Linked DNA regions of Homo sapiens: region 2 is linked to region 1. Evidence: fine-mapped expression QTL. A gene starts in region 1. The other region holds a variant in brackets. All regions are shown on one strand. Distances are from middle to middle. Region 1 holds the start of CDK5RAP3 (CDK5 regulatory subunit associated protein 3). Region 2 overlaps NFE2L1-DT (NFE2L1 divergent transcript).

The links.
Region 2: its variant is fine-mapped to the expression of CDK5RAP3 in whole blood (INTERVAL, PIP above 0.99).

Annotation. Positions count from the first base shown.
Region 1 is chr17:47,963,681-47,975,551 of GRCh38, reverse strand. CDK5RAP3 (CDK5 regulatory subunit associated protein 3) reads right to left here and starts at 4,439. Exons shown (of 14, transcript NM_176096.3): 1 at 4,400-4,439; 2 at 4,145-4,190; 3 at 1,902-2,033; 4 at 1,521-1,621; 5 at 1,104-1,152; 6 at 215-393; 7 at 1-38. The coding sequence starts at 4,405. RefSeq lists enhancers at 1-153, 3,450-4,077 and a silencer at 4,499-4,788.
Region 2 is chr17:48,038,848-48,047,133 of GRCh38, reverse strand. It overlaps NFE2L1-DT (NFE2L1 divergent transcript), which reads left to right. Exons shown (of 2, transcript NR_170231.1): 2 at 164-253. It also overlaps a transcript of COPZ2 not described here. Among named protein-coding and RNA genes, the nearest start is that of NFE2L1-DT, 5.1 kb to the left of the region's middle. RefSeq lists enhancers at 1-3, 8,171-8,220. The variant A/G (reference allele first, on the strand shown) is at 4,171.

The sequences.
Region 1 (11,871 bases):
TTCACCAGGGCCAGCAGTTCTCCTCGGACATTTTCGCCCTAGAGAGGGGAGAAGAGGTGGAGTCCAACAGATTGAAGAAAACATCCAAAGACCGAAGAAAAGTAAGACACTGGCCCAAAGGGGGTGCAACCAGGCTGAGGGGTCAGACGGGGTCAGAGGAAGACAAGCAGGGGCCCAGGTGTCCTCTGGCTGCGAAGAGGCTGCCGCCGCTCACCGTGATGCCATACTGCTTGCAGGAGTGGTAGAACTGCTCCCGCATCTCGGCAGCCCCTGCCTGGCACTCCTCCTCCTTGCGGCTGTATTCTTGCTGCAGCTGCTGGCACTTGGCAATCTGCTTCTTCAGTGAGGGGATCTCATAGTTGACATTCCGAACCAGGAGGCTAGAGAGTTCCACTGAGAAGTGCCCAGGAAATTCAGCCCAGGACACCCCCACATGAGGCAGGCATGCCCCAGGATGCACACACATCCTTTGTGGTGGTGAAGAGCACGAAGTCAGCTTCCCAGCCCCACTTGTTCCCAGCTGTGGAGCCTAAGACAAGTTGTTTAACCCCTCTAATCCAACCCTCATCGGTAAAACAGCGACAATAACATTTATCATGAAGATGCAAGAGAGAATCCACATGACACACCAAGCACAATTCCTTGCATTTAGTAGATGCTCAGGAAATATTAGCCATTATTATTATTTATACTACACCCAACCCAAACACAGTTAGTCCTGTAGTTGCTCTCAGGCACTTGATATTCGCTCCCAGAAAAACCCGTGCCTCTTCTGCCTTGTGTAGAATGGGGGTGCGGGGGTGGGGGTGGGGGCAGCACACTCCCGCTAACCAAGAGGTGAGTGGTGGAGGACCCACACACACCTGCTCGCTGAGGCACGGCGAATGGCCACTACCGGCCTGGACCTCCTCCTTCCCCCAGCACTCCACTCAGGGAAAATCAATTCCATCAAAAACAATTGATTTTACCACCTACAAATGGGCAACATCTACACTCCAGTCTCTTCCCACTCACAGACTGTGCCTCCTATAAGCCTGGTATCTCAGAACTCTGAGAGTGGGCTTCCCCATGGATACCAGGGCTCCCAGGCCGGGCCACTTTACCTAAGTAGGTGTTGTCCTTCTCATACAGAGCTATAATCTCCTGCCAATCCTGAGTAAGAACAGAAAAACAATGTTAAGCCAGAAAAGCACTCGACAGCCACATCCCAGCTCAATCCCTAAACAGGGTAAGTTCTCCCAGCCTTTACATCACATCAAACACAAACTCCTTGTCCTTCTTTCAACTCTGCTGGCTGGACCACCCACTTTAAGAGTGCAGGCAATCCCTAAAGCAGTGGGTTTGAAAATTAAACTCAGGGATAGGATCCACTTTTGGAGTAAACTATAGAGACAGAGTGAAAGTTCAGGAAATATTCTATGTAGGCATCCCCACTGGAGCCTCAGAGAGACCACAGAGGCTATGACTCCTCGGATTGGATGTCCCCAACCACATACTACCGGCCCTTGGCCCACACTTGCCTTCATCCGCTGTGAAGAGTATCGGCCAAAAATATTCTTCGTGGAGGCCTCTGTGCCTTTGAGAAGGTCCAGGATTCTTAGGCAGTGAAAGTAGTGAATGTCTAGAAAGCAAGAGACGGGATTTCGAGAACTAAAGTATCTTCTTCACCTACTCTGGGCACTGCAGGTGGCTGATTCATGTATAATATACTGCCAGTAACTTTAGTGTGTAGCTTTTCCCTAAATCATTTCATAGTGGAAGAAGCCAGCATCTATACCTCAAATAAAAATCGCTCCCTCTCTAAAGGCCAGCCCTGGTGGCTAAATAACAAGAGAGTAGCTCAGCTGATACATACTACCTCAGCAAAGAGGGGACTCCAGTGACAGCCCCTAAGCACTCACAGGACCCAGACAGCAGCTGGGCGATCTCTTCGCTCTCTGGCATGTCCTGGATGGCAGCATTGATCTTCTCGCGGATCGTCAGCACCAGACTCTGCCATTTCAGGCTGCAGTGCCTTCTGTCCACCAGCCAATCTACATGAGAAGCACCCAAATTAGAGCATTCCCATTCACATCACCAAAATTCCATCACTAATTCGAGTGAAATACACTGAAATTAGTCTAAAAGTTTTCTTTACATTGGTTAAAGTATGGGGGTCATGGGAAGATGGGAATAAAGACAAGCCCAAAGAGATGCCTGGGGCTAAACCAGGCTCTGACAATCTGACTTCATTAGCAGTGTGATTTTTATAGAGCAATTGCCTCAACACAGGGATAACAAAAAGTTTAAATTGGTCCTGAAAGTGCCACTTTTGACCATTCTCAATTCCCCATAATATTTTTGCTTCTATGGGTAATTATATCTTTCTTCCTGACAAGAGGATGCTGCTCAACTTCCATTTCCTCAGGGCTGGGGTTAACCATGACAATGGAAAATACAAGATGGTTATGCCAAGTACTGGATGAATGAACAGCTGCAAAGCCCCTAATACCTACAGCGCCCTAAGGACTAGATAACATGACTCTGTTGTGAACAGTGAAGTACCACCCTGTACATGTGAATACCAATGGGACTGACCTCTCAAAGTCTGGGCCCAGATTTGTGGCTTCAGAGCCATGCATATTTCCTCAGTGAGAGCTAAGAGCTGAGCTTTGTGGTCAGATGGTCCTGGGTTCTCGTTATCAAGTTTCTTGAGCAAGTCTACTATTCTGTGCCTCAGTTTTCCCACATGTAAAATGGGGAATAATAAGACACTGACTAGAAAAGGGAATGCAGGTAAAACACTGAACAGTGTGCCTGAGACACGGCAAGGACTCAAAAAATGACAGTGATCATTTTTATCATGTCAAGTGCCTAAAACAGCACCTGGTACAAAAAAAAACCCTCAATGAATGGTGGTCATTTTATTGGTCCTTTTCATGACCAAGAACAAGCTCACACACCAAGACTGCACATGGGCTGAAGGGCCAGTACAAATCTGAAGGGAGGCTAAAGAAGCTTCCCCCGTGACCACCAAGCAGGACTGACTAAATGGCACTACAGAGTGGTGAATTCAGAACTTGAACTCTGCCAACCGGTCAAACGCTGGGGTCCCACACTAGTATCAGTTATACTCTCTCTGCTATATTCCTGTAAAGTTTTCAGAAAGAAAAATTCTGTTGATGTCACAGAACTAGAAGCAACGGACTGGGGTAGTCAAACAGACACCATCTTAAGGACAAGATTGGCATCAAATCCATGAATCCAATAAGCATTTTAAAATGCCAGGAGCTGTGTGATCAGATGAAGAGGCCTTCCCTGACTATGAACTGGGGAGGAAGTATGTAAGCCCCATACAGACAACCTGGAGATGGCCTGGACACTAAAAGGTTTTCATTTGCAACTGGGTCTTAGGTCCCTCTTCCTCCTAAAATCAAGGGGGAGGTGGAAGCTTTTTAAATGAGGTTTTTTTTTTTTTTCCTGGCATAATGCAAAAGGCATGGACAGTGGGTCAGACAGACTTAAGTTCCAATTCAGATGTGCCACTTAGTGGTTGACTGTTTTTTGTCTTCTTTTTGAGATGGAGTTTCGCTCTCGTTGCCCAGGCTGGAGTGCAATAGTGAGATCTCTGCTCACCGCAACCTCTGCCTCCGGGGTTCAAGCAATTCTCCCACCTCAGCCTCCCGAGTAGCTGGGATTACAGGCATGTGCTCCCATGCCCGGCTACTTTTTATTTTTATTTTTTTGTATTTTTAGTCATGGAGACATGGAGACAAGGTTTCTCCATGTTGGTCAGGCTGGTCTCGAACTCCTGACCTCAGGTGATTCGCCCACCTCGGCCTCCCAAAGTGCTGGGATTACAGGCATGAGCCACCGCGCCCGGCAGTGGTTGACTGTTTTTAAAGCGAGTCATTTATCCTGTCCCTGAATGATACGATAACATATGTTATTAAAGGAGAAAACGCAGGTCAAACAGACTGTACATATGGTTCGTTCCCGCTGCTATCAGGGAAGCAGGTCTGGCCACAGATGGGGCATAGAACGAGGCCAGTGGTCAGCATCTCGACTCAGGCTTTCAGGGGTCAGAGCTCCCGGCTATTGGACACAGGGGGCAACGCACAGGCCTCCCCCCGACAGCCAGCTGCGCGGTGGCGCCCCCTCCTACCGAGCAGCTTGCTGGTCTGGATGTCGATGGGCACGTGCTGATGGTCCTGGCGGGAAACACGGTGAGGAGGGGGGCGTGAGCGCGGAGAGAGGACGTACCACTCGCGCGCTCATTTCAACGTCCCAACCACCACCCTGCAGGGCCAGAACGGGGCCAGAGCGATGGGCTGGGTTGAGCCGCTTCCGGAGGGAGACCGGAGACACAGGTTAGGGGTCCGCGGCCAGTCCCCAGCACACCCAGCTCCTGTCCCCACACCTCCATCTTTCCTCCACTTCCGCTTCAGGCTGGAGACTGTGGCCCGCCCCGCCCTACCACCAATCCAGTGGCGTTGTGGCCGAGCCTCCGTTTAGACACAAACGGGCATCCTTCGGCCACGTCGCCGCCTTCCGTACAGCCAATCAGGGTTTACGCTCCACTCAGGCCTCAAGCCCCGCCCACCCCAGGCTCCGAATGGCTGAGCTCGGGAGGGGCGGGAGAATGGAGACAGCCAATTGGAGACGCGAGGCGGGCTCAGGGCAGGGGACGGGAGGGGGTGCGCTGCAGCGGCCGTGGGATTGCGACAGGCGGCGCTCGAGAGCCCAGCCTGGCAGCCGCTTCCCCTGGCGGGCACTGGGTCTTCTCCACGCAGATTGAGACGTCTGCTGGCGGGGTCCTAGCGCCGATCTGGGAGGCCGTTGCAAATACCTTCTTCCCTCCTTGCGTCGCTTTACCATCCAGAGCAGTGTGCAGGTCTCTTGTGGCACTTGTCATGCTTTGCCTCCTCATTCAGTTTCTCTAATAGACATGGTTGAGCACCTGCAACGTGTTGGGCGATTAGGGCAGGGAAGGGGAAGGAAGAGAGTCGGTGAGACGTCCCAAAGAGAACACCTACATTGAGTCTAAACGAAGAGCTGAAGATAGCTGGGTGATGTGGGAAGAGGAGTTTTAGGTGGAGGAGACTACACAGACAAAGCTTAGGTGGCCACAAACTGCAAGAGGGGTGCAAGCAACAACAGGCAGGCAGGACGGGCAACGTAATTTGTGAGGTCCAGTGCAAAATGGAAATGCACAGCTGCTTGTTACAAAATGATGAAGAATTTCAAGATGAAGTCGGCTCCGCGGGCAGGCCAACCTCTATACCGTAGATGGTTTGAGGCAGCGAGTGGCTAGAGGAGAGGCTGTAAGGGTGGAAAGGCCATATCAAAGGGAGACTTATTAAGGAACTTGGACTTCATCCCTTCAGACAGAGGAATCACAGAAGGGGTTTGAGGCAGGGAGGAACCTGTACAGATAGGCTGCTGGGATGATGGATGCATGGGAGATAAGACTGGGGACAAGGAGGCTGGAAGGAGGTTGTTATCGAGGGATTATAGCCTGAGCTGGGACACAAGATATGAGGAGGAAGGGGAAGGGCTGGATCTGAGGAATATTTAGGAGGAAAATGTATAGGACTTGGCAATTGATTGGCTGTTTGGGTGGAGGAGAGAGACACTAAGGATGACACCTAGGTGATTAGGTGGGAACCACCACCTGAGACAGGGATGCAGGATGCTGAGCAGGTGTTGGGGAGGAGGGGGTCTAGCTTTGAACCTAGTCTGGCAATGCTGGGAGACCCCCAGATGGAAAGTGTGCAGAAGGCACTTGGGTCTATAATTTTGGAGTTCGAGGGAGTTGTCGGGGCTGGAGATACAGCTTGGAGAGTCACAAGCTGGCTAATCTGTGGTCCGAGTGGTGGCTGAAGCTAAGGGAGAGTCTGAGATTGGCCAAGAAGTGGGTAGAGTAAGGAGGGAGGGTAGGCTGAGGCCAGATCCCCCAGGATCTCACAGCGCTGGGTATGCCTTTTCTTTTTTTTTTTTTTTTTTTTTTTTTTTTGAGACGGAGTCACGCTCTGTCGCCCGGGCTGGAGTGCAGTGACACGATCTCGGCTCACTGCAAGCTCTGCCTCCTGGGTTCACGCCATTCTCCTGCCTCAGCCTCCCCAGTAGCTGGGACTACAGGCGCCCGCCACCACGCCCGGCTAATTTTTTTGTATTTTTAGTAGAGACGAGGTCTCACCGTGTTAGCCAGGATGGTCTCGATTTCCTGACCTCGTGATTCTCCCGCTTCAGCCTCCTAAAGTGCTGGGATTACAGGCGTGAGCCACCGCGCCCGGCCCTGGGTATGCCATTTCTAAATATTCCTTCCCCAGCTCCTGTTCACCACAGCACAACACTTGAGGCTTAGTAAATTTTTGATTGAAATGCATAGTGTGATACAGCAGCAGGAAGACCTAGATTCTGCCCAGTGAGGTCTTGGACCATTTCTATAACCTATCTGATAGCCACAGTTTCCCCACATGGAGATAACAGCTATCCTATCTCAGGGTATTTCTGTTTAGAGGCTTAAATAAACACACTAGTAACTCATGACAGTTTACAACATACTGTGGCTGTATTTCTCATGCTTTGTAAACTCTCCCTATATGAAATATCATATATGGGCCAGGCGCGGTGGCTCACGCCTGTAATCCCAGCACTTTTGGGAGGCTGAGACAGGCGGATCACCTAAGGTCAGGAATTCGAGACCAGCCTGATCAACATGGTGAAATCCCATCTCTGAAAAAAACAAAAAACACGCTGGGCACGGTGGCTCACGCCTGTAATCTCGGCACTTTGGGATGCTGAGGCGGGTGGATCACGAGGTCAGGAGTTTGAGACCAGCCTGATCAACATGGTGAAACCCTGTCTCTACTAAAAATACAAAAATTAGCTGGGCGTGGTGGCGTACGCCTGTAATCCCAGCTACTCAGGAAGCTGAGGCAGGAGAACTGCTTGAACCCGGGAGGCGGAGGTTGCAGTGAGCCGATATTGCGCCACCGCACTCCAGCCTGGGCGACAGAGTGAGACTCCATCTCAAAAACAAAACAAAACAAAAAACAAACAAACAAACAAAAACAAAAACCATCCCGGCGTGGTGGTGCATGCCTGCAGTCCCAGCTACTCAGCTACTCGGGAGGCTGCGGCGGAAGAATCACCTGAACTTGGGAGGCGGAGGTTGCAATGAGCCCAGATTGCGCCACTGCACTCCAGCCTGGGCAACAGAGTGAGACTCCATCTCAAAATATATATATATGTCATATATGATCATTATTATTATAGAACGGATTGAAAAACTGCTCTGAAAATGGCTCATAGAGCTGAATTAAGGGCCTTTTCAGGGATCTTTCATGGGAATTTGGCTCCCATCTGAGTCAGCCTGACTCAGACTGTAGGAATTGCTCAGGCTCCTCCATGATTAAACACACACTTAACTGGGCCCCAACTATGTGCTCGGGGCTGTCTGGGACATCTCAAGAGCAAGGCACTGCCCTGCCCTCAAGGTGTATCTATCTCTCTTCCTTGAACCAACAGGCTGGGCAGAACAGGACAGGGTGGGTCTGGAAGACCCAGCCCAGGTGAGTTGATGGAAGCAGGGACCACCAGCACTTCAGCCCCACCCACAGCTCCCCAAGGTGACTCACGTGGAGCAGAAGGATGTTTGAGAACAGTTCTGCCCAGCTACTGACTCCAGGGAGGCTGTCCCAAAGCCAGAGGCTCTGGGAGAGAACCTGCCTCTGCTGACTGCAGAGGCTCTGGGGGAGAGCCTGCCAAAGGCACATGCTTCTGTGTTCCCAAAGAGTGTAGGAGCATGGGCCTTTGGCGGGTTTCTGCACTTTTCCAAGGCCACAGGGAACTTCAGGGTCTGTGGGTAGATAAGCACATAATTGGTCTGGCATCCAGGGCATCGACTCTATCTCCTTCAGGAGACTTTAGTCATCGGGGCTCCCAGCAGCTAGAAGGAGGCAGAGAGAGGTATGGTAGGTTTCTGACCAGGAATCTCTCAGTTCTCTGCTGATTTAGCAGATGGGACCCTGGGAGAGGGGCAGCACATGTAGAGAGGTGAGGAGGATATACCAGGGCTGCACCAGCTTTGGACAAGGAAGCACAGAGCCCCGAGGCACCGTGTAGGCAGCCTACCTTGCCATCCATTATTGTTGTTGTTAGCTTGCTTATTACGTGATAAACATGCCCACGTGCCAGTGTAGATCTAAATGTTTTACAAGCCTTATCTAATGTGATTCTTCTAACAACCTTATAATGTGGGTACCATCATTAACCAGATTTTAAAGGCAAGGAAGCCAAAGATTAATTACGTAACATGTTGAAAATCATCCAGTGGGCCAGGTGCGGTGGCTCACGTCTGTAATCCCAACACTTTAGAAGGCCAAGGTGGGTGGATCACAAGGTCAAGAGATCGAGACCATCCTGGCTAACACGGTGAAACCCCGTCTCTACTAAAAACACAAAAAATTAGCTGGGTGTGGTGGCACGTGCCTGTAGTCCCAGCTACTCAGGAGGCTGAGGCAGGACAATCACTTGAACCCAGGAGGCGGAGGTTGCAGTGAGCCGAGATCGCGCCACTGCACTCCAGCCTGGGTGACAGAGAAAGACTCCGTCTCAAAAAAAAAGAAAAGAAAAGAAAATCATACAGATCATACAGTGGGCCAGGCGCGGTGGCTCACACATGGAACTCAACACTTTGGGAGGCCGAGGCGGGTGGATCACCTGAGGTCAGAAGTTTGAGACCAGCCTGGCCAACAAGGTGAAACCCCAACTACTAAAAATACAAAATTAGCTGGGCGTGGTGGCACATGCCTGTAATCCCAGCTACTCGGGAGGCTGAGGCAGAAGAATCCCTTGAACCTGGGAGGCAGAGGTTGCAATGAGCCAAGATTGTGCTACTGCGCTCCAGCCTGGGAAACAGAGAAAGACTCAAAAAAAAAAAAAAAAGGAAAATCATACAGTGGGTAGTTGATGAGGCTGGGATTCAAACCCAGGCCTGTTGGGCTACCCAGCCTGCATTCTTCTTCTCTGTGTGATGTGCCTTTGCTTCTCCTGCACCCCTGCCTACCCCTTTGGCTCAGCCACAACAGCTTCAGGTCTCTTCCTCCCTTGGGCCTGATTCCTATTTTCTCCCCAGTTGTTGTGCCAGACACTCAGAACTCCCACCCCTGCAGGCCCTGCCCCTTTCCAAAGTTCATTCTTACCACACCCCATTCTGGGAAAGGGAGCCCATTACTTATCCTCCTGCAATATCCATAAAAGAAGGCTTACTTTCAACATTCAAATAACTCATTTATTTTATCTGCTATATTTTTATTACTTTATGGTCTGTGTGTTTGCTCACAGCCACACTGACTATGGGGTGTGGTGTGTGTGCCTGTGTGTGTGTGGTGTATCTGCCTGCTAGGCTGGAAGCTCTGGAAACATAGCAGCCTTGGGCCTCTTGCTGCCCGGAGTGTAACCACTGTGTTGCTTTTTTCTTTCTTTCTTTCTTTCCTTTTTTTTTTTTGAGACAGAATCTCGCTCTGTCACCCAGGCTGGAGTGCAGTGGTGTGATCTCAGCCCACTGCAACCTCCTCCTCTTGGGTTCAAGCGATTCTCCTACCTCAGCCTCCCAAATAACTGGGATTACAGGCACGTGCCACCATGCCTGGCTAATTTTTGTATTTTCAGTAGAGATGGGGTTTCACCATGTTGGCCAGGGTGGTCTTGAACTCCTGACCTCGTGATCTGCCCACCTTGGCCTCCCAAAGTGCTGGGATTACAGGCGTGAGCCACCGTGCCCGGCATGTTGCGTTTTTCAGTCTGTCTCCCCACCTAGTCTGCGAGTACCTGTGGGCTGGGAAGCCAAAGCAGACTTGTTCATCTCTATAACCCCAGCATCCGGTGTGACTCTTGACATTGAGTGTCAGGAGCTTAATGGATGCTTGTAATGAAGGAAAGCCATATGCAGGAAGGCATTTGATGTTGGTGGTAGTTGTGATAAGTGGGGACCATGATTGCTTTGTCTTGGGACAAGAGGTTCAAGGTCCCCAGATCCTTTTCTCATCCTTTCCTCTACAGCTCAGGACTTGGAGTCAACATCCTCTGAGCCTCTTGGGAGTGAAGGGAGGAAATCAGGGAGAAGAAATTAGGGGTGGTCAGCTTCACGAGTTTGGTACAGACCAGTGAAAGTCTATGTGGGGCCAGTCACCTGGGTCATGCTCTGGGGCCACTCATTTTACCCTTAACTCTGGCAACTCATGCCCTCCTGGCCACCTCATCCCTCCACCTTTGTTAGTCTTCTGGGGAAAAAGAACTCCCTGGGTGGCTTCATGAAATGGGTCCTGTTTGTCATCTTCTAAGGATGCCACTGTATTTCATTATTTCACCATGCTTATCATGGAAGGCGGTGGGAATCTAATCTGCTAAGAAAAGGAAAACCAAGGATACTACCAAACCACCCATCCATTCACCTCTTTTCCATTGGAGTTCAACTTTATGCACCCTGAGCACCTTATCACAAAGACACAGTCCTAGGCCTCAAAGGAAGTAAAAGTATGTTGAGTGAGGGGCCCACCACCTTCCATATCCCATGACGACATCTCCAGAGTGTGTCGTCACAGAGTGTGAGAGTACTGTGCTCATGCATAGAAGGTGCTCAAAAAATCTATGCAAAGCAAATAAGAGGTACCTGTAATCCCAGCGCTTTGGGAGGCCGAGGCAGGCAGATCACCTGAGGTCAAGAGTTCAAGACCAGCCTGGCCAACATGGCAAAATCCCGTCTCTACTAAAAATACAAAAACACAGAAAATTAACTGGGTGTGGTGGTGCCTGCCTGTAGTCCCAGCTACTTAGGAGGCTGAGGCACAAGAATCACTTGAACCCAGGAGGCAGAGGTTGCAGTGAGCTGAGGTCATGCCACTGCACTCCAGCCTGGGCAACAGAGCAAGACTGTCTCAAAAAAAATAAAAAAGCTAATAAGAGGTCCACTCAGAGATGCTCAGAGTGCTAAGGGAACAGAAAGAAGGAGACGGAGTATCCAACTCAGCATGGGAAAAGGCAAAGGAGAAGGACAGAACACCACCAGAGCAGGCTCTTAGGAGAAGTAACACTTGAGCTGAGTCTTGCAAGATGGCATGAATTGTAATAGAAAGGAGAGGAGAGAAAAGAGGAAGGGAGGTGACAGGTGTCATTCTGGGAAAAAGGAAAAGCAAGGACAAAGCCTAGAGGTGAGAGAATGGCTGTTCCAGAAGGAAGAAGTTTATTATGGGAGCATGGATGTTTATGGGGAGAGTGGAGAGAAATTAGGTTGAAGAGACCGGCAAAGGGAGATCTTGAAGAACTTTCAGGTCCATTATAAAGGGTTGAAATTTAATTCCATAGGTTAGGATTCCCAATCAATGGGCAAGCAGGTCCCTGGAAAGCTGTAGAAATATGCAAAGGTGGGAAGATCGCTTGAGCCAAGGAGTTTGAGGCTGTAGTGAGCTATGACTGTGCCAACTGTATTCCAGCCTGGGTGACGGAGACAGACCCTGTCTGTAAAAAAATAAATAAATAAATAAAATAGAATTATGCAAATGTGCCAGGGATCCATAAATGCAATGATTTTTTTTTAAGTCAGTGGTTACTAGAAAGACAACTCCCATATGATGAGATGCAGAAATTTTTCTACATTGAAGAAAATGGTCATTTTGGCTGGGCATGGTAGCTCACACCTGTAATCCCAGCATTTTGGGAGGTTGAGGAAGGAGGATCACTTGAGTCCAGGAGTTCGAAACCAGCCTGGGCAACATAGTGAGACCCTGACTCAGAAAAAAAAAAAAAAAGAGAAAGAGAGAGAGGAAGGAACGAAGGGAAGAAGGAAGGAAAGATCATTTCAGAGAATATGACCAATAAATGTATGAA
Region 2 (8,286 bases), 73 kb before region 1:
TTGCGAGTTAGGGGCTTAATTTGGGGTGGTTTGCAGATTAAGTACTTTCACTGCATATAATAAACGTACACCAGCAAACCACTCATGGAATTCTTAAAAAAACTTCTGAGCTAGTTTACCAGTTTCAAAGACTAATTCAGAGAGCATGTTTTACCTATTCTAGGCTGGACTGGAACTCCTGGACTCAAGCGATCTTTCCATTTATCAGGGACTACTGACGCGTGTCTCCCAATAAATACCTGAGTATAAACAACATGAGGACTAGAATTTTGTGCGTTAACTGTTATAACTTAGTAGACACTCAAATACTGAGTACTTGAAGGGGGACTCAAGCAGGCAGGCCTCTGATTTTCCTGTTAAAAGCAGAAATTAACCACACCTTGGAGGATGTACAGTTTTGAAGGATATGGCATGTTAACAATAAAATAGGAGACCATTCAGTCCCCGAAGTAGTGAGACAATGAAGATAAAGACTGGTATTGTATAAGAAAGGAGGAATATTTAGGTGTGGCCATCAACTCTAAAAATAAATAAGGTTGAGAAGGAAGTATTTTAAACATAGAACTGGGCCCGGCGCAGTGGCTCACAGTAGCACCTTGGGAGGCCGAGGCGGGAGGATTGCTTGACCAGCCTGGGCAGCATAGTGAGACCCCCGTCGCTACAAAAAAACAAGCTGGGCTTGGTGCCACACATCTATAGTCCCAACTACTCAGGAGGCTGAGGTGGGAGGATTTCTTGAGCTGGGAGATTGAGGCTGCAGTGAGCTATGATGGTGCCAGTCTGGGCAACAGTGAGATGCTTCCTCAACAAAACAAAACATAAAATTGAGAGATATAAAGGCTCAACTACAGTGTTTAACTACAAGACAATTTTGAGAAGGTGAAAAGAGCATACTAAAGTTGGTCTTTTTTTGACAGAAAAATACAGAACAATTTTCAGTCCTAACAGTTCAAACTAAAACTGGACAATCGTTTATCTGTGGAGTTTCCTGCTTAGCCATTTCACAAAGGTGGGCAGAAAAAGGGAAAGAGTTGCAAGGGCCGAAGAGAGTAAAGGTGTAGAGACAAACTCAGTCGCAACAGCAGGCCTAGGCCTGGCAGGGTGTGGGCGCCCAGGATATTTGATGCTCCATGGAAGGGAGTGGAGACAGAAAGACTGTCTTCCATTCTGTCTAGAGTTCCAGATCAAGTCTGAGCAGGTGCAAGCTTTCCCAGAACCTGCTGATTAACCTTGTAAAACCCAGGGTGTGTCCTTCTTCACCCAGGAAGCCACCCCCTCCTTTCCCCCAACACTCTCCCCCTCCCTTTGCCTGGGACAGCTGTTAATAGGACAGTTACCCAAGAAGCAAAAGAAGGATCCCATGCTGATGTGTCATCAGTCCCGGTATATCCATTAAATCAGACTGAGAAGACCACTGGAAAAAGTGAGCGCATGCATGTGGCTCCCTAAGGGAAAGGCTGGCAGCCATTGTAAAACTAGGCCTTGCCCCTGCGACTCCAGGCTGGGCAGGAGAGAGAAGAAGGCAGTGGAAGCCGAGAAGAGGGTTAGGTCTAAAGCACACGGATTTGGGGCCAGCTAACTATAAAACATACACGGAAATCCCCACCCCCACCCCAGGAATAGCAGTGTAGTGTCTACCGACCCAGCTTCCCTGGTAGGAAAAGCTGCTGCTGCCGCCAACAGCCACATCCATCCTGCAGTCATCCCTGGAGGATGACACATGCCAGGAATCCTCAGAGAAGGGGCTGTGGGAGGGCAGGCTGGCTGGGGCTCTGATTTCTTCTGGAACAGTGAAATTGCTTTTTCCCTAAAAGGGAAACCCAGGCTTTCTGCCATTCTGGTTGTCCATTATCTTTCCTCTAAAAATGTCTCTAAGGCCAGGCACAGTGGCTCACACCTGTAACCCCAGCACTTCGAGAGGCCCAGGTGGGCAGATCACTTGAGCCAGGAGTTTGAGACCAGCCTGGCCAACATAGTGAAAACCCATCTCTACAAAAAAAATACAAAAATTAGCCAGGCGTGGTGGTTCATGCCTGTAGTCCTAGCTAGTGGGGAGGCTGAGGTGGAAAGATCACCCGATCCTGGGGAGGTTGAGGGTGCAGTAAGCTGTGATTGCGCCATTGCACTCCAGTCTGGGCAACAGAGTAAGACCCTGTCTCAAAAAAAATAATAAAAAGAAAAACATGTCTTTAAGTTTTGCTAATCCATATAAGTATTTCTTACTCTGTAACCTCATCTAATCCAGGGGAATAGATTAGATAGATGATTGCCTGAGATTTCCTTACAGTCCTGAGAGATGGTAGGAATACATCATGTCAATACTAAATGTTAGCATGTTTTGCAAAGAAATCAATTAGTTTTCTGGCAAATCCGGACATATGGCCCTCTCTCTTATATGGTAAACATCATCAGCAAGCTTGTTACCATTAAACCACCAAAAAGTAAAGCTCTCCTGCAAGCCAGCCTCTTTCCTATGCACCACTACCACACTCTTAGAAGATTGCTTCTCAATCCTGGCTGCATATTAGAATCACCCAGGTGGGTAGCTCGTAAGAAATACCAATGCCCAGGTCCCACCCCACACCAATTAAAACAGCTGCCCAGAGCAGAATTGGACATCAGTATTTTGTAAAAGCTCTTCAGGTGATTCTTATGCACAGCCAGAGTAGAGAATCACTAGGTTGGAGCAAGAATCCACATTGGGGTAAAAAAAAAAAAAAAAAAAAAAAAGCAAAAGATTGTGGTAATACGGGAACACAGACTAGAATGATTATCTGACTTTTTTTTTTGAGATGGAGTCGCTCTGTGGTCCAGGCTGGAGTGCAGTGACACCATCTCAGCTCACTGCAACCTCTGCCTCCCCAGTTCAAGCGATTCTCCTGCTTCAGCCTCCTGAGTGGCTGGTATTAAAGGTGCACACCACCACGCTTGGCTAATTTTTGTATTTTTAGTAGAGACAGGGTTTTGCCATGTTGGCCAGGCTGGTCTCAAACTCCTGACCTCAAGTGATCTGCCCACCTCAGCCTCCCAAAGTGCTGGGATTACAGGCGTGAGCCACTGCACCCGGCCCGTTTGACTTTTAGGGTGTGCTCATTCTCAACCCTAAAATGTTCTTTCTTCACCTCTACAATGAAAATGCCTCATTGTTCATTAGTGTCTTAGTGTAACATTTTTTGAAGCTGAGTTCAACTGTCCTGTATGTCTTGCTATGTTGTCTCAAACAATACCAGGTAGTGTTCTTCATATAGCTCTGTGTGACATGTCACACTCAAGGAGCTGCCATTAAGAGGTAGGAGGAGTGGATGTTTTGGACTCATAGGTGGGTTCGAAAATCTGGCTCTGTTTCTTACTAGTTGGGCCATCCCGAGCTAAATGGAGATAACAATGTACATATTCATAAATCTTAAAAATCAGGTCATGTGTATAAAGCCATTCATGCCTGGAGGAAGAGCTGAGTATAAGGCCCTGTCTTGAATAATCCTCTCTCCACCCACCCTACAACTTTATCTCAGAGAAAGCCAAAGGCGATGAAGAAATGAGAGCTGTCCTTAGAATGGTCTACTAGAAACCCATCCTACAGACAGAGCATGGAAGCTTTAGTTTTCTCTAGAGGATGCCACCAGTACACACTTCCACGCCTCATATTCCACACACACCTCCCCCTCTTGACATTAAGCAGGAGGGATAGAGAGAGGCTGGTACCCAAGGGAGCTGTTTCTTCTCGTCACATAAGAACAGATGCTGAAATCCTAGGACAGACAGCACAGAAATGTGGCAGCAGGAGGGTGACTCAGAGGAAATGAAATGGTCTCCCCTTCAAGCTATACCAAGGCCCAGAGGAGAACCTGCTTTGAATCACCTGCCTCCTGGGACTCCAAAGGGCAGGGACCAATTCTGAGTGCACTACTTCACAGGTTCCAGCTGGGTAGGGATGTGCACAGCCCACCTCTCCATCCTACTGTGCCTACCCGAAGGGAGTAGAGGGCAGAGAAACATGAAGGCTGCATTCTTTTTGAACCCAACTTGGCTTCCTCGAGCTGGGGAGGCTCTCCTGCCGAGTCTGCTGCTGCACGTGCATGCTTCTCATGTGCTGCCAGCCTTAAACTGGAAAGTCCTCTTAGGGCCATGCTCTGTGGAAGACACTGTCCCAATACTGGACACACATAGCTC[A/G]CATGTTTATGTGAAACTGCATTAAAGGTGCACTTCAGGATGTGTGGGGAAGCGGTTGTCATGGAGAGAAAGAAGTTCTGGGGTCTCTGTTGAAGGAGTTTGGGGAGGGGTTATCATTGGGGAGAATCTTGTCCTTGAAAAGTTGAACTTGGCTCTGAATTTACTTATTCACCACTAAACTAAGATGTAAAGAGATTTTATGGGCCAGGCACGGTGGCTTACGCCTATAATCCCAGCACTTTGGGAGGCCAAGGTGGGCAGATCACTTAAGGTCAGGAGTTGGAGAACAACCTGGCTAACATGGTGAAACCCCGTCTCTACTAAAAATACAAAAATTAGCCGGGCATGGTGGCACGCACCTGTAATCCCTGCTACTTGGGAGGCTGAGGCAGGAGAATTGCTTGAACCCGGGAGGCAGAGGTTGCAGTGAGCCGAGATCGTGCTACTGCACTCCAGCCTGGGCGACAGAGTGAGACTCCATTTCAAAAAAAAGAAAAGATGTAAAGAGATTTTAAGAAGAGGAACAACAAGGCCAGGCGCGGTGGTTCACGCCTGTAATCCCAGCACTTTGGGAGGCCAAGGCAGGCGGATCACCTGAGGTCAGGAGTTCAAGACCAGCCAAACAACATAGTGAAACCCTGTCTCTACTAAAAATAAAAAAAATTAGCTGGGTGTGGTGGCGCATACCTGTAATCCCAGCTACTCAGGAGACTGAGACAGGAGAATCGCCTGAACCTGGGAGGCGGAGATTGCAGTGAGCCAATATCACCCCATTGCACTCCAGCCTGGGCAACAAGAGTGAAACTCCTTCTCAAAAAAAAGAAAAAAAGAAAAAGAAAAAGCAACAACAGTGATAGATGTGGGGGTGATGAGAACTTTGTGGTTCCTAAGCTTCCTTCCCCAGCCTTCTCTCATTCCTATCCCCTTGGCCCCTCTCCAGTGCCTTCCCATCCCTAACGTGTATAACTGACTCCTTCCCCACCTCCCCTATGGAGCCAGCCCCCTAAGTCCCCTATCTTCCCAGGTCTTCCTCTGTCCCTTCTGGAGGCTGCTGGTCTTTCATAGTGGGTACCATAGCCAAACAGAGGCTGAGAAATGCTCCTGGAGGCTTTTTGGTGCTGTCCTTGTAAATATGAGCCAAAAAAAAAAAAAAAATGGACTAGCTCACAGAAATATTAAGACATCAAAATAACCAAATCAGTATTTTTTAGAAATAACATACCCAGCCAGCATGACCATTGACATAACTTCTGATGATCTGGAATCCGAAGAAATAAAATGCCCAAATGCTGGGTCTTTTCCCTGGCTGCTGTTATCAAATAGTGTCATTATGTTCCCTATTATAACTGATAGCCTGCAAGAAAGGTTCAGATGTGCCTTCTAAGTCATCATATAGGGAGGGTCAGTAGATGCTTCCTCAGATGTCTGCATGGCCTGCTTCCTCCTTTCCTTTAGCTCTTTGTTCAAATGTCACCTTGTTAAAGGTTTTCTCAGAGGACTATGAAAATGGCTTTCTGGCTTGCCTGTCCCTTACCCCTCACATTCCACATCCCATTTCTGCTCTATTTTTCTTTGCAGCACTTATCCCCAACTCATATAATATCTACTTTTCCCATTTATTTGTGTATTATATCTTGCACAGAAACGCACGCATGTACATACACAAACACTTGATTGTAAGTTCCATGAGAGCAAAATTTTTCTTTTGTCTACTATTGTGTCCCAGTGGCTAGAAAAATATCTGGTACATACTAAGCACTCAATAAATATTTGTACAGCACATAAAATATGTTGTCTTTTTTTTTTTTTTTTTTTTGGAGATAGAGTCTTGCTCTGTTGCTGAGGCTGCAGTGGTGTGATCTTGGCTCACTACAGCCTCTGCCTCCTGGGTGCAAATGATTCTCCTGCCTTCACCTCCCAAGTAGCTGGGACTACAGGCACTCGCCACCATGCCTGGCTGATTTTTGTGTGTTTTTAGTAGAATCAGGGTTTCACCATGTTGGCCAGGCTGGTCTCGAACTCCTGGTCTCAAGTGATCTGCCCGCCTTGGCCTCTCAAAGTGCTGGGATTACAGGTATGAGCCACCACACCCAGCCAATATGGTATCATTGATAGGTACATTTTAATTATTATTAGTTAAAATTTGGTATTTGTGAATATTTATACATGATCTCCCTCATCCTGAATTCCTTTATTCATTTACTTCACAAATGCTTATTAAATATCTGTCATCGGCCAGGTGCAGTGGCTCATGCCTGTAATCCCAGCACTTTGGGAGGCCGAGGCAAGCAGATCACAAGGTCAAGAGATCGAGACCATCCTGGCCAACATGGTGAAACCCTGTCTCTACTAAAAATACAAAAATTAGCTGGGCGTGGTGGTGTGCACCTGTAGTCCCAACTACTCGGGAGGCTGAGGCAGGAGAATCACTGGAACCCGTGAGGCGGAGGTTGCAGTGAGCCGAGATCTCGCCACTGCACTCCAGCCTGGTGACGGAGCAAGACTCCGTCTCAAAAAAAAAAAAAAAAAATCTGTCACCAAGCCTTGTAAGAAACACTAGGGATTCCACAGTGAACAAGACAAACATAATTGGCCAGGTGAGGTGGGTCACACCTGTAATCTCAGGGCTTTGGGAGGCCGAGGCAGGAGGAGGGCTTGATCCCAGGAGTTCAAGACCTGCCTGGACAACACAGCAAGACCCTGCCTTTAAAAAAAATAATAATAAATAACCAGGCATGGTGGCACGTGTGTATCGTCCCACCTACTCAGGAGACTGAGACAGGAGAATGGCTTGATCCTGGGAGTTGTTTGTGTGTGTGTGTGTGTGTGGGTGGGTGGGTGGGTAGCAGGTTCTCGCTCTCTTGGCCAGGCTGGAGTGCTGTAGTGCGGTCTCGGGTCACTGCAACCTCCACCTCCCAGGTTCAAGTGATTCTCCTGCCTCAGCCTCCCGAGTAGCTGGGATTACAGGCACCTGCCACCACCCCCGGCTAATTTTTTTGTATTTTTAGTAGAGATGGGGTTTCACCATGTTGGCCAGGCTGGTCTCAAACTCCTGACCTCGTGATCCGCCTGTCTCGGCCTTCCAAAGAGCTGGAATTACAGGCGTGAGCCACCGTGCCCGGCCGACACTGGGAATTTGAGGCTGCGGTGAACTATGATCACACCACTGTACTCCAGCCTGGGTGATAGAGCAAGACCCTGTCTCAAAACAAAAAAACAAACAAACAAAAAGTCACATTCATTGGTTCTTGCAGGGCTCAAAGTCTGGGCGGGGAGAAGGAACACTTATAAACAAACTAGTAAAGGCTGGGAATGGTGGTTCACGCCTGTATCCCAACACTTTGGGAGGCTGAGGTGGGAGGATCACTTGAGCCTAGGCGTTCAAGACCAGCCTGGGCAACATAGTGAGACCTTGATCATGATCACCCTCCTCCCCCTCCTCCTCCTCTTCCTTTCTTTTTCTCTTCTTCTTCTTCTTCTTTTTTTTTTTTTTGAAACAGATTCTCACTCCCATTGCCCAGGCTGGAGCACAGTGGCATGATCATGGCTCTGCAGCCTTGAACCCCCAGACTCGGGTGATTCTCCCACCTCAGCCTTCTGAGTAGCTGGGACTACAGGTCACACCACCCTACCTGGCTAATTTCTTTGTAGTTTTAGTAGAGACTAGATCTTACCATGTTGCCCAGGCTGGTCTGGAACTCCTGGGCTCAAGCCTTCTGCCCACCTCAGCCTCCCAAAGTGCTGGGATTACAGATGTGAGCCATTGAGCCCAGACTTGAGACCTTGTTTCTACAAAAATAAAAAAAATAAAAAAATAAAAAATTACCTGGGAGTGGTTGCATGCACCAGTGGTCCCAGCTACTCGGGAGACTGAGATGGGAGGATTGCCTGAGCCCAGGAGGTTGAGGCTGCAGTGAGCCCAGATCGAGTCACTGCACTCCAGCCTGGGCAACAGAGTGAGACCGTGTCTCAAACAAGCAATATTAGTAAAAATAATATTTAGAGATTGAAAAAAGTGCAATGAAAGAAAGAAATAGGAACTGAGAGAATGTGACAGGAGAGACCTATCAAGTCAGATATGGTGGCTGTCAGGAGGACCTTTTGGTAATTATATTT